Linked DNA regions of Homo sapiens: region 2 is linked to region 1. The links come from fine-mapping of genetic effects on gene expression. Tissue or cell type: lung. Region 1 holds a variant in brackets; the other region holds the start of a gene. All regions are shown on one strand. Distances are from middle to middle.

Evidence for each region.
Region 2: it holds the start of LETR1, and the variant in region 1 is fine-mapped to the expression of LETR1 in lung (TOPMed, PIP above 0.99). The same link has a PIP of 0.9 or more in coronary artery, ovary, thyroid, tibial artery and tibial nerve.

Annotation. Positions count from the first base shown.
Region 1 is chr15:95,254,582-95,257,504 of GRCh38, reverse strand. No RefSeq gene overlaps it. Among named protein-coding and RNA genes, the nearest start is that of LETR1, 71 kb to the left of the region's middle. The variant G/T (reference allele first, on the strand shown) is at 1,616.
Region 2 is chr15:95,325,730-95,328,652 of GRCh38, reverse strand. LETR1 (lymphatic endothelial transcriptional regulator lncRNA 1) reads left to right here and starts at 1,553. Exons shown (of 4, transcript NR_034095.1): 1 at 1,553-1,823.

The sequences.
Region 1 (2,923 bases):
GTTTTAGTAAGCCAAGATCACGACATTGCACTCCAGACTGGGCGACAGAGTGAGACCCTGTGTCAAAAAAAAAAAAAAAAAAAATCTTTGTGCTATTCTGCTTTGGGAAGAAATATTAAAGTGCTGGGAAAATAAAAAATGGCAGTAACAAAAAAATAGAATTTTATGGTCTGAGTGATCATCAGAAGCACTGTTAGATGCTGCGTCCATCTTTTCGTTGATGGTACATTTTGGTGCTTAAAATAAATGCCATTTCTGTAATTAACGAATAGGGCTAGTGAGGTATAAATTCGTCTTGGCAGGTTTGAACTCAGTGCTGTTGTGCAGTTGTATGAACAAGGAAATTAAATGTGAAAAATGGCCAATCTGTCTATCCTCTGGGTTCCCTCAACAACGCGGCCTCATGAAGTACCTGCTGCCATATTGACCTCAGTACACACACAGAAGAGCCAAGGGAATTGCTTCTTTGGGGACTGGAGGTGAATTTTTAGATTTGGCATAATCTACATATTATTTTTTCAAATGAAAATGTCGATAAGTTTAAGCCTCCATATCAACGTGGAAAAAGAATTTGTCCCTTAAGATAAATGGTAGCAATAAGATACTCAGATTATCTTCTCATTAAATGTTATTATGATTGACATCTTTGTTTTCACAAATGTTCTTTAAAAATGTTATACTAAGGATGAAGTACACATAATTTTATCTATTATTCCTTCTATGTACAGATAAGACTCTGAGAATTTATAGAAACAAACATTAGAAGGCAGGAATGTGGAGAGAAGAAAGCTACCTGACAAGGGAATCTCAGGATACAAGGAAAACACCAAGGTGAGTTTCCTGACTTTTAGCTTTGCCTGATATATCTCAGACCTAGAGTTCAAGGAACCAAGAACCCCAAAATAATAATGGGAAAGGACAAGAAAAGCCCCAGCGAAAGACTACTCTGTCTCTAGCCAAAGGACAAGGAAAGGGGCAACCAAGCAAGACAGAAAAACATTTAGATAATAACCACTCTATTCTAGCCAAATTCCACAAAAACTAATTAGATGGTGTCAGAGGAGGCTGAGTAGGAAGGAGGGACTTTACCCCTGCCCCCTAATCCTGTGATATCAGTGGAAGCCATGTGGAGAGCAGCAGCAAGGCACTTCCATCCCTCACATGTTGGGAAGTATAGTGGACCCTCGAACAACACAGGTTTGAACATCACAGGTCCACCTAGGTGCAGATTTTGTTAAACAAAAATGTAGCAACTTCCTAGCATGTTCAGATACTCTTCTAGGTACTTGGAAGACAATAGTAAAGAAAAACAGCCAAAGCCCCTGCTGTCCTGAAAGATGCAGGCAATGGAAGAGGTATTAGTTTAGGGACCCACACAAATAAGTAAATTTGCATATATGCTAAGGGTCATAAAGGGGTGGCATGTGAGCATGTGAGAATATAGAATAGACACATCTGCTTGGCTAAGGGCAGTCAGAAAACACTTTCTTCAGAAATGAATGATTTATTTAAAATCTTCATAATTAATTAGGCAGAGTAGGCCAAAAGTTATCTAAGTACAGAGAATGTACCTGTGCAGTTTATTTTATTGACTTGAAAATTAATTTCCTTCATA[G/T]GAATGTAAATCTCTGTTTACCACAAGCCCTCTGTCTCCACAAGTTCTGTGTCCAGAACTGAAGGCAGATCCAAATACAATATTCATGGGATGCAAATTCCCATGTATGCCAAGAGATAACTGCTTTATTGGAGGCCTAGTGGGGAACTGAAACTCCCACTCCTGCTTAGCAGGAATGAGAAGCCCCCTTTCAGAGGTCAACAGAAGCTGAGTTAAGAAACCTGAACTTTTACCCTACCTGGCAGTAATGAAGCGACACCCACCTTCGTCTGTGAGGATGGTGTGAGATGAAGGTAGCTAAAACAAAAGGTTTAAATAAGATTCAGAGTCTCATCATATTGAAATGTCCATATTTCAGTGGAAAATTACTCATCATACAAAAACAAGAAAGAACTAAAACTAAGTGAGAAAAGATAATAAATATATGCCAACATCAAGATGACACAAATGTTAGAATTATCTGGCAAAGCTTGTAAAGCAGCCATCATAAAAATACTCCAATGAACAATTAAAACATTCTTGTAGCTAATGAAAATTTATTTGGAAAGCTTCAACAAAGAAATAGGAAGTCATAACCAAAAATAGAAGATAAAAGAGTCAAATGGAAAATTTTGAACTGAAGAATACAATAACCAATATAAAAAACTCAATGCATGGGCAGAATGGAGGAGACAGAGGAAATATTGGTGAACTGGAGGAAACAATATAAATTGACCATCTATACAACAGAGAGAAGATAGAGTGAAAAAAAGATGAAAGGAACCTCAAAGACCTTCGAGATTATAGCAAAAAAAACCAAAATAAAACAAAACCAAAAACCAACAAACAGACAGACAAAAAATTAACCTTTGCATTCCCTGAGTCCTAGAAGACCGGAAGATGGCAGACCTGAAAAACATTCTAAGAAATAATGGCTGAAATGTGTTTAAATTTAGCCAAAGACATAAATATACAGATTTAAGAAACTGAGTGAATCCCAAATAGGATAAACTCACAGAAATTCATAGCAAGACACTCATAGTCAAACTTTTGAGAACTGAAGACAAAAAAGAAAAACAAAAAGTCAATCCAGATGTCCTTCAAGGGGAAGATGATTAAACCAACCGTGATACATGCATGCTAATAGAAAAAAAACTACTGATGCCTGGAACCACCTGGATGAATCTCTAAAGAATTATGGAGAGTGACAAAAATAATTTTAAAATGTTACATAGTATATTGTTTTATTTATATAACAACATGATTGAAATAACAAGATCATAGAAATGGAGACTCATTAGGGGTTAAGGAGGGGGAAGGATAAGAAGG
Region 2 (2,923 bases), 71 kb before region 1:
CAATAAATTTCTTTGAAATTAATAATTTAAAACATGGAAATGTTGCCTCAAGATGTTCCTTACTGTGTTATTTACTCTAGTGAAATCCAAAAGCAACCTAAATATCCAACATCAGGAAAATAGTTGAGCAAACCATATATACAATTAATGAAAGATTATGCAGTTATTAAAATTGGTTAATATGGATATTCTCTAATAATATTAAAAAGTCCCTTCGACATAATGCTGTGTGAATCACTACATAATCCCACAATTCAAATGTACTCTTTTATAAGTATGTAAGCATACATATAAACAATTCTAGTAAGAAGCATGCATACATTTAATTTACATGGGCATTTTTTTGGTATATGCTGTCCCTGTTAGCCTGATGGGATTATTATGTTTCCTTTTCCCATTTCTTTTTTCTAAAGTTACTGTTCTGTTCATATGGTATTTGAAAGAGAAACACTTGTACTTAAGCTCTCTCTTTCCACCCACTCGCTTTTCAATCAGTTATATAAAATATACCTTGGTGATATGTTTCCATCTCATTTATTACTATTTTAAACATGGCTTTCACTTTCTTCGTGGTGGTAGTGGACATGGCAGAGGAAGATGGTGTAATTCAAAAGCACAATTAAGCAGAAAATCATTTTCCTCCTAGAAAAAAAAATCTGGTTTTTTCTAAACTATTTTACTCTCAGAAGTAAATGAATCAGCACCTGCAGGACTGACTGCCTCCTCGACAGGAGATGCTTTACCTTCAGCGTGGCGGTTTGCGCAGGAGGAATGCTTGCAGTGAATGGACCTGTCTGTCTTTCAGTCGCCAAAGAAGAGCCCGGATGACACAATAGCTCTCTATCAGCCCCATTTCTATGGTGGTTCACGACTTATTCTCTCCTGCTAACCGTCTGCCTGCTTCGACCCTCACTCTCAACCTAACCAGTGTTAAAAAGGACACTTCTTAAATAGAATTGCCTAAAACAATGCACCGTCATCCTTTTGCAAGGGCAAACAAAACATATTCAAATTGCTCATGACTTTTAAACAAGTAAAAGCTAGATAAATTATGAAAATGTTGCATATCCTAATGTGCTATATATATATATATAGATATATATATATATATCGGGCACATCCTTCTATTTTTTTCTTTTTCGAAAAAAAAGTTTACTAGCGTTTACTAGCCAATTATCTTATATTTTTAGCCTGTGTAGAATATCTAAAGTGTATTGTCCACGCCCCTCCTTTTTAACCCATTTTCAATGGGTTTAATATTGCCCGAGATAAGGGGATGCAACTGTTCAGGTCTGATTTCCTGTTGTTTCTCAGATACTGATAGGGCATCATTCACATACATGACAAATAAGACTTCTGAACTGTTTGCCATTTGGGAAGGGGAGGCTCGCGGGTTGTTCCCTGGCGAAATGATTTGTGAAACATCAGTCCGAAATTATTCGGGGGTTCTTCGCCCTCCACTTTCCCATAGCGCGTTTTCCTTTCTCCCACAGAGATATAATAGAAACTAATCTTCAAAATCCAAACATTCCAAGCCCCATCCTTTTGTGCAGGCATCTCGCTGTCTGCGCTGGGCACGGAGCGGCGCGCGCGCGCCCGTCTTTCCCTCGGCGGCCCCCGCGGCTCGGACCCGGGCCGGCAGACAGGCCATCCATCATCCGCCCTCCTCCCGCGGAGCGCCGCAGCCGCCGCGGCCAATCCGGCGGCAGGTGGGGCCGCACCTGCGCGACAGCCCGCCGCTTCCCTCCGCTCCCTTCGCCGCGCCTCGCGTGCTAGCGGTGCCCTTGTGAGCCACTGCGTTCTCCAAGGCCAGAACGGGACAGGTACGCTCGGGTGACAGGGACCGTACGTGCGCTGAGCCCGCGGCTGGCAGCCAGGGGGGCGGCTGGAACGTGGGAGGACACGCTGTCCCTTAATACACACGCGTGCTTTGGATGGGTGTGTCATCTATTTGTGGACATACGGGCCCTCACTGGGTTTAGCCTCTTAAAAAGTTGAAGAATTAAGATGCTTACCTTTGGAAGGGAAGTGTAACTGAGAACACGTTTTAGTGATAGAATGTGTTGCCTCTGGTCTGTTTCTTGGGTGAACCCATGGTGCAGTTTCCAAGCCACGTCTGAATTCCGCATGCCCCCTACATACTTCAGGCAGTATTCCCCTAAGGCCTAAGTGAGAAATACTGACTCAATACTAAAGATTAAATAGTATCCATAGGATACAAAAATTACCCCAAACAAAAACCTAACCTAGACCTCAAGGACCATGAAAAGACTGTAACAACTTAAAGAAAAAATAGGACCTCAAACTACAGAGAAGCTTTCATTTTCCAAATAGGCAAATTATTTGTAGTGCAATCCGCTTGTTTTTGTGGGGGCTAAAGCGGGTGTAGAGTTGCTTGGCTATTCTGTGGAGGCAGCTAGATAAGTCCTGCTAACATGTTATGGATTTTGTAAGCGGGCTCAATAACTCCCTTTGGTTTAAAAGGTCCAAAACATGTATTTTATCATGTAATTTGAGAACAAATGAGAACAAGCAGAATGCCTGCCTCCCCCGATATGTTCCAGGAGTGTGTCTATGTAGATGTCAATTACGTAAGTGCAAGGCCTTGGAAAACAACAGCCCTGCAGGTGGCTTCAAGGCTTCAAGATTTTTCAGAAAAGCATATTTCTTTTATTTTCTTTAAGAAAAATACAAAATAAAAATAACAGCAACCACAGCCGCAAGCATTACCCTCCAACCTCCTGCCCCTGTCTTGCTTCTGAGTCATAAATCATGAAAAAGAGAGAGACAATGACTCCAGTTTTCCTGCCTTTAACAACTGGAACTGCTAATGCCAAAAAGGAAGAGAAATAAACAGGCGAGCTGTATTTCTGCAGAAGAAGGAGAGGTGCCCTTGGGAAACCGGAGGTTCCTCATCTCTAAG